2 separate regions of the Homo sapiens genome follow, and region 2 is linked to region 1. The links come from fine-mapping of genetic effects on gene expression. A gene starts in region 1. The other region holds a variant in brackets. All regions are shown on one strand. Distances are between the middles of the regions.

Region 1 (4,317 bases):
GGTGGGAAACCGGTATTCTAATTTTTTTTTTTTTTTTTTTTAGCAGGGTCTCACTCTGTCGCCCAGACTGGAATGCAGTGGCACCATCTTGGCTCACCGCAACCTCGGCTTCCCAGGCTCAAGTGATTCTCCTGCCTCAGCCTCCAGAGTAATTGGGATTACAGGCGCATGCCACCACGCCCTACTAATTTTTTGTCTTTTTAGTAGAGACAGGGTTTCAGCGTCTTGGCCAGGCTGGTCTCCATCTCCTGACCTCGTGATCCGCCCGCCTCGGCCTCCCAAAGTGTTGGGATTACAGGCGTGAGCCACCGCGCCCGGCCGGTATTCTAATTTTGATTGCACCTTGAGCCCTTTCACTTTGAACAATTTTCCAGTTAGTTCATCTCTAAATCTAAAACTAGAGCAAAACAACATTGCTGCTAAAGCAATCTAAAAATGATAAAACTTAACAGCTCTTCAAGAGCACAGCATACCTGCCGATTTTCATTAATATACAATACCACGTGGTATTAATCTTAGGATCATTTTAGGAAAAACTTTGGCCATTGGACATACATGATGTAATCCACTAGCTTACTGTGGCATGGCTTAATGTTTTTATTAGGAGGCACACTTCAGAACAAGTCCCCAGGCCCTGGGTTTCTGGCTGTGGACTCTAACGCGTCATCTCCTCCAGGAAGCTCGCGAGAGCTGGGGCTGGGCTGGATGCGCCTCCTTGGGGAGCACTGCATCCACCTCACCTGCCACCGAAATGCATCTGTGGGCCTCCGCTGGGGTTGAGCTCCTCTGGGTAATAACCAGGAAGGTCTTATTTTCTATATCCGTGCGCCTGGCTCAGCGGCACACTTGTAGGTATTTGTGCTAAATAAAACAAAGCTCAACCTTTTCCTCAGGATGAGCAGCTCTTCCAAAAAATACATACGAAAATGTGTTATTATTTTTAACCTCAAAACCACTAGCAACTTCAATAAAACAAATTTTGGGTGTGCTTGTTATTGCTGCACCCTATTAAACAGATTAAGAATTTAGGCCGGGCGCGGTGGGCCACGCCTGTAATCCCAAAAGGCGGTGGGAGGCCAGCAGGCGTTTGGGAGGCTGAGGCGGGCGGATCCCTTGAGGTTAGGAAATCGAGACCAGACTGGCCAACATGGCGAAACCCTGTCTCTACCAAAAAAAAAATTACATGGGGTCAGGACTCTTGACATAGATACTTTAACACAGGGGAAAGAAATGCTTTGTCACTGATGGTGTCTGGCCACTTTATCACGCCACTCTATCCTACGGTGAGCCGCCCTACTTAATCAGTTTACACATGTGAGTCCATAAATGCCCTAGGGAAGCTAAAATTATATTAATAGATACAAAATTCAGCTTGTTACAATTATTACTTTTTACTGCGGGTTCAGAGCCTGGTCTGAATTTTGCTGCTTAGCTTTCTCCCGCAGCTGAGTGGGAGCCGCAAAACCGAGACCTGTTTCCCTGGTAACGCTCCGAGCGCCTGGGCCTGCGACCCCTCCCTTTCTCGCGAGAAGAGACTACCTAGTTCTTCCGGTAACTTTAGAGCCGCTTGCCGGTGGCCTCCCGCTTGAGCTTGGCTTTGCGCATGCCCAGAGAGAGTGGCGCGAGCCTGCGTTTTCCGGCCAGAGGACATGGTGCGTTTTCGGGGTCGTGTTTGTGCTTCCTGTCTTGGAATCTACGCGGGTTGTGGGAGTTCCGCGCCTGCTGATCTGTCCTGGGTTCAGCCAAGGGGGATGTGGCTAGGCGTTCCGCCTCTCTAGGGGAAGGGAAGAAAGAAGCAATAGGGTTGCTGAAGTTCGTGCCCAGGAGCCGGGGAGGGAAGCTCTGGACTGGGAAATTGGGACGCGGGGGCTGAGTGGCGCGAAAGCTATTGCTCTGTCCTCTGTGGGATACGACTGCTTGTCGCTGGAACAAGTTTTGCACGGTCTGTAAGAGTTGAGCCTAGCTGAAGAAAGGAGGAATTATAAATCCCAAATGTGGACCAAAACAATGCACGTTTTCCCCTCTCTCCCTCTTACTCCGCTCACCACCCCATCATAAGTACGTGCCCTTCTAAAACTTGGATCCTTGTCCTTTATCCACACACAAAAGGGAGAGCCCTGGAGTACAGCTGTCCAAGTGCAGAGTTGTTGAGATAGTAATGGCGTCTGCATGAGGATGTACAACAGTCTTTATGACTTACAGCAGATATGGAATATAGTCTCCCAAAACTTGACATTTTGAGTTTCTGAAGTTAGCCTTTTGCCTAGTCCGTGTAACATACCCCAAAGACAAAATACAAAGTATTTCTAGACATAACCCTTAAATTACAAAATAAGACATTTTTATGTATTGGAAGTATTAAATTGTTCTTAAATAACCAGCCACGGCTGGGCGCGGTGGCTCACGCCTGTAATCCCAACACTTTGGGAGGCCGAGGCGGGTGGATCACAAGGTCAGGAGTTCGAGACCAGCCTGGCCAAAATGTTGAAATCCCGTCTCTACTAAAAATACAAAAATCAGTCGGACGCGGTGGCGGGCGTCTGTAATCCCAGCTACTCGGGAGTCTGAGGCAGGAGAATCGCTTGAACCCGGGAGGCGGAGGTTGCAGTGAGTCGAGATCGCGCCACTGCATTCTAGCCTGGGAGACAGCAAGACTCCGTCTCAAAACAAATAAATAGATAAATAACCAGCCACTTCTCTGTTGATTACACTGTGATGCCAATTAAGTTACATATAATTTTGGGTTCCCTTTTCATATACTGATATTAAAATGGAAGAAGTTTTGATAAAACATTTTAAAGATGAGAGAAGGTATATGCGGTTTCAGTTACCTTTATAAGGGATGCAAAATTTGGTTTTTAAATGGAGCAATAGTTTCTTCTGGTTAATTCCTGTGCTTTTTGTTTTTTCATAGATGCAGGGGGAGGCACACCCTAGTGCTTCCCTTATTGACAGAACCATCAAGATGAGAAAAGAAACAGAGGCTAGGAAAGTGGTCTTAGCCTGGGGACTCCTAAATGTATCTATGGCTGGAATGATATATACTGAAATGTAAGTGAATCAGTCCAAAAAAAGTGAAACTTTAAGAAGCCAGTGGCTGGTTCCACAGGTTTTTGTGTTTGTTTTTGATTTTTGGTGTTTTTAGGTTCACTGGAAAGCCTTTCTAATTTTTTTTCAGGACTGGAAAATTGATTAGTTCATACTACAATGTGACATACTGGCCCCTCTGGTATATTGGTAAGTAAGTAATTTTCACTGTAACTTACATTTACCAATAAAAAACTGCCTTCAGGTTTAATTCAGCTTAGTATACATTTCCTTATTCAACAAGTATTTGACTGCCTGCTGGGTTGTAAAAACTGGGAATACAGCAGAAAGGGAGCAAGGTAAATCCCTGCTATTATGAAAGGAACATTCTGTTAGACAATCAGATTAATAACACTTCAGGTAATTATGAGTTCTGTGAAGAAAAATAAGTTTAGAGGTTAGTGAGATTTGTTTTTATTACTCTCCTGAAATGCGCTTTCTGTGTCTCTACCTTTTTACTTTTCAAGACCAGCCCAGATTTCTGCTCCATTGATGCCTTCCTCAGTTTTCACATTCTTTCCTCTCTTCTTGTCTGCTCTTCCATAGTCATTGGGTATAAAGAGTCTTTATGGATGTTAAAGTAAATTTCATAGTCTATACACATTAAAGTCTTTCACAGGGAGATAGTGTGCCAAGTTGGGAGAGCAAGGGATTTGCAATCAGCAGACCTCAGTTAGAATCATGGCTTCACTAACTAACTCTCTACTCTTGTAAGAGTCACTTGGCTTCTGAATAATGTTGGTTTATATTTAAAATGAAGGTGAAAATATTTATTGTACAGGGTTGCTAGGATTAGTGCTATTTTGAAACTCACTAGTAAATTACCTACACATAATTTTTTTTTTTTTTGAGAAGGAGTCTCACTCTGTCACCCAGGCTGGAGTACAGTGGCACAATCTCAGCTCACTGCAACCTCCACCTCCCAGGTTCAAGCAATTCTCCTGCCTCAGCCTCCCAAGTAGCTGAGACTACAGGTGTGCGTCACCACACCTGGCTAATTTTTATATTTTTAGTAGAGATGGGGTTTCACTATGTTGGCCAGGCTGGTCTCAAACTCCCGACCTCAGGTGATCCACTCGCCTCAGCCTCCCAGAGTGCTGCAATTATGGGTGTGAGCCACCATGCCCAGCCACCCTACACATAACATTCATTAAATTATAGTTTTTATGAGGAATAAGAAGGTAATTTTAGTTTGCTAAGTATAGAGGGTTTTTGTGTTCTCCAATAGAT
Region 2 (4,389 bases), 25 kb before region 1:
CAGACTCCAGGGGAAAATTACCTGCCCACCCCATCCCTTATTCAGCTCCCCTTCTCACTGAGAGTCACTTTCATCAGCAGTAAAATTCCCCACATTTACCATCCTTCAATTTGTTCATGTGACCTCGTTTCTCCTGGATGCTGGACAAGAATTCAGGAGCCAAGAGTGAGGACGTAAAAGGCTGTCACACTGACCCTTTATTCTCACTGGCGGAAGGCAGCCGCCTCATGCAAAAAGGCAGAGGGCCCTCTGAGTTGATAACACTTCAGCCATCCATGGATGGCAGAGCTAAAAGAGCACTGTAACACACCTTCTGGGTCTTCAGGGGTCGCAAGCACCCCCATAGACGCTGCCATGGGACCAGCAAGAAGTTGGCTCCTACTGGCCCCCCAAAGCACTTGCCCCAGCTCCTGCACCCATTCACCTGCACACCCCCTCCAGCAAGGGGTAGAATTCAGTGGGTCTGAGTGGAGTTCACTCCTGCTGGCACCAGAGTAGCCAGCTGACTCCAGTGCTCATGTTCTCCAGTTCCTGTCTCGTTCACCCATGCACTCCCTTCCACAAGGAGTTGGGAGCTGTGGGCTGAGTAAACAGGGCACCCCCTTCATGAGTCCTGCAAAGGAGTCAGGGAAATATCCTACTTCAATTGGATCGTGGGGGTGTATTTCCTCCTTGCTGTTCTCATGACAGTGAGTTCTCACAAGATCAGGTTGTTTAAAAGTATGTAGCACCTCCCACTTCACTCTCTTTCTCCTGCTCCAGGCATGTAAGACGTTCCTGCTTCCTCTTCGCCTTCCACCATGATTGAAAGTTTCCTGAGGCCTCCTCAGCCATGCTTCCTGTATAGCCAGCAGAACTGTGAGCCAATTAAACCTCTTTTCTTTATAAATTACCCAGTCTCAGGTATTTCTTTAATAGCAGCGCGAGAACGGACTAATACAGTGTCCGGAATTGGTGGGTTCTTGGTCTCACTGACTTCAAGAATGAAGCCGCGGATCCTCGTGGTGAGTGTTACAGCTCTTAAGGTGGCACGTCTGGAGTCTGTTCCTTCTGATGTTCGGATGTGTTAGGAGTTTCTTCCTTCTGGTGGGTTCGTGGTCTCGCTGTCTCAGGAGTGAAGCTGCAGACCTTCCCGATGAGTGTTACAGCTCTCAAGGCAGCGCGTCTGGAGTTGTTCGTTCCTTCTGGTGGGCTCATGGGCTCGCTGGCTTCAGGACAGAAGCTGCAGATCTTCATGGTGAGTGTTACAGCTCATAAAAGCAGTGTGGATCCGAAGAGTGAGCAGTAGCAAGATTTATCACAAAGAGCAAAAGAACAAAACTTCCACAGTGTGGAAGGGTACCCAAGCGTGTTGCCACTGCTGGCTCTGGCAGCCTGCTTTTATTGTCTTATCTGGCCCCACCCACATCCTGCTGATTGGTAGAGCCGAGTGGCCTGTTTTGTCAGGGCACTGATTGGTGCGTTTACAATCCCTGAGCTAGATACAAAGGTTCTCCACGTCCCCATCAGATTAGTTAGATACAGAGTTTCCACACACAGGTTCTCCAAAGCCCCACCAGAGCAGCTAGATACAGAGTGTTGATTGGTGCACTCACAAACCTTGAGCTAAACACAGGGTGCTGATTGGTGTATTTACAATCCCTGAGCTAGACGTAAAGACTCTCCACGTCCCCACCAGACTCAGGAGCCCAGCTGGCTTCACCTAGTGGATCCCGCACAGGGGCTGCAGGTGGAGCTGCCTGCTAGTCCCGCGCCGTGCGCTCGCACTCCTCAGCCCTTGGGTGGTCGATGGGACTGGGCGCCGTGGAGCAGGGGGTGGTGCTCGTTGGGGAGGCTCGGGCTGCACAGGAGACCATGGAGTGGGTGGGAGGCTCAGGCATGGCGGGCTGCAGGTCCCGAGCCCTGCCCCGCCGGGAGGCAGCTAAGGCTCGGTGAGAAATCGAGCGCAGCACCGGTGGGCTGGCACTGCTGGGGGACCCAGTACACCCTCCGCAGCCACTGGCCCAGGTGCTAAGTCTCTCATTGCCCAGAGCCGGCAGGGCCGGCCGGCTGCTCCGAGTGCAGGGCCCGCCAAGCCCACGCCCACCCGGAACTCCAGCTGGCCTGCAAGCGCCGCAC[G/A]CAGCCCCGGTTCCCGCTCGCGCCTCTCCCTCCACACCTACCTGCAAGTTGAGGGAGTGGGCTCCAGCCGTGGCCAGCCCAGAAAGGGGCTCCCACAGGGCAGTGGTGGGCTGAAGGGCTCCTCAAATGCCGCCAAAGTGGGAGCCCAGGCAGAGGAGGTGCCGAGAGAAAGCGAGGGCTCTGAGGACTGCCAGCACGCTGTCACCTCTCAATACGATCATAATCACCACACACGCAAAGCCATGGGCCCCCCCATCAAAGAAGCACGCATACTTTTTTCTTTAACAATTTAGGCATCATAGAGCACCTTCCAGGCAAAAGAAGCTGCTCTAGAAATTATAGAACATAAGAAGATGACTAAGACCCTGTATCAACTGCAAGTCACAGAAAAACCAACTTACAATAGGGATTATTTTGCCTAGCAACAAATCTAAAAGTAGGATGTTTCCAGAATTTGTTAATTCAGCAGCTCAGGACCTAGTCTTTTCCATATTTCCACACTGTCATACTCAGGCGAATGCCCCTATGGACACGAGCTGGCTGTCACACAGTTCCAGTCATCACGTGCAGACTTGCTAGCAACCACCAAAAGAAAAAGGACTATTTCTCTTCTCCACATGTCTTTTTAAAGAAAGACTGAACAAACTTTTTTCTCTGAATGCTCCCCCCAGCAAACTTCCCTTCCCAGAATGAGATTACATGCCCACCCTTGAGCCACTCATGGACCAGGAGAATGGCACCACCAGGCTTGGCTTAGACCAATCAGAACTTAACCGTAAATCATGTAAGAGAGCAGGAACAATGGAACAAAATGGAAGAAAGGAAAAGAATCAACATAGGCTACTTCAGACCCTTTCTGTATCTGAAGGGGTACAATCAGAGAAAAGAGACAAAAAGACGCTGACCCTAAGTGGCATTTCTCCAAGCCCTTTCGTCTCTTCCTCAATCCTCTGACCTGCCAGTCAGTCTTACTAACCCTGGCTGTAGACCCTTCCACTAGGACCTGGTTTTTATCTCTCCACTTCTCCTTTTGTGATTTACACTAATTAGTAGCAGAGTTAGCTCTCAGCCTGGTGTTCTCACTGCTAAATCAAGATTTGAACACGTGAAACTTCATGGTGACAGAGGGCCCTAATAAACAAAGACAATTAGAGACAACAGGCCCCTGCAATAAGGCGGCTTGAGGAACAGCTTGTGAAAAAGGCCGAGCTCAGAAGATGAAAGAACTGGAAAACAGTATTGCTCAGGATCATAAAATTTTTGTTTAAAAAAAGGATTTCATGCATTATCCCTTTGTGCACTGAGTGGAAATTTGCAATAAGAAATAACGAGAAAGGACAAGTATAATTTATTTATAATGCATCTTTCTCTTGCCAACTTCCCTGGGCCTCTCCAATAACTGCCAGTCTACATACAAAAAAGGTCAGCTTTCTATTTTCATCTGAGGTTTTGTTAAATTTAGATGGTAAGTGCAACTCTTCTTTACACCAAAAAGTGCCTATTATTTAAGATTCAGTTGGTATGTAATAGATATTTGGGGGGGAAAAAAGCATTTTCTTCCTTTTGTCTTCCTCTAATAGTATAGGAATGTATGGGCCTGATTTATATTTCCCCCACCCTCCCACCCACCTCTTTGACCTCTATCTTTTCCTGACAGATAGAGAATATCCAGGTGGCCTGGTACTTGGAAACTTGTCAGATGTTATTCAAAGCAATAAAAAACACATCATGCAAGTCTTCGGCATATTGTTACAAGGAAACCCTGTTTAGAATCCACTAATTGGGAATTTGTGATAATTTGAGGAAGGGTTTGCTGAAGTTAACCTTTGTACTATCTATGAAAAAAAAAGTTCACTGAAGTTCTGAATAGTAGTGTAAACAAGATTGGAAGGGGAATAATTATCTGCTTAAAAGAACCAGTTGTTTTGAAAAGCTTTAGAAGTATTCTTTTACATACAAACAGGGTAATTATGATTTAAACAAAGGCTGGCCTGTTTCTTAGGCTTCTTTGAAATGTCAATTACAAATAACTCTTGTCTATTCACCAAGCCAAAACCCACCCCTGTGTACCAGGCAACAGTTGGTTAGCTTGCTTCCACTTTTTGTATTTGAAAATAATAAACCTGAAGTTCTTTTAAAGTAGTATAATTTAATTCAAGCTTTTCACTAATTGAGACGGTCCATCCTATAGTGTGGGTGAGGATTTACTAATTCCTAGCAGACAATTGGGAAAGCATGGAGTGATAGTGCCTTCACTAATTTAGTGGTATT

Evidence for each region. PIP is the estimated chance that this variant, and not a neighbour inherited with it, causes the effect.
Region 2: its variant is the best candidate, but not a certain one, in a credible set for the expression of TMEM209 in lung (TOPMed, PIP 0.74).

The regions. Positions count from the first base shown.
Region 1 is chr7:130,202,708-130,207,024 of GRCh38, reverse strand. It overlaps TMEM209 (transmembrane protein 209), which reads left to right and starts at 1,619. Exons shown (of 15, transcript NM_032842.4): 1 at 1,619-1,652; 2 at 2,915-3,051; 3 at 3,179-3,237. The coding sequence starts at 1,650. It also overlaps a transcript of SSMEM1 not described here. RefSeq lists enhancers at 1,355-1,464, 1,525-1,704, 1,381-2,180 and a silencer at 2,842-3,136.
Region 2 is chr7:130,227,781-130,232,169 of GRCh38, reverse strand. No RefSeq gene overlaps it. Among named protein-coding and RNA genes, the nearest start is that of SSMEM1, 22 kb to the right of the region's middle. The variant G/A (reference allele first, on the strand shown) is at 2,119.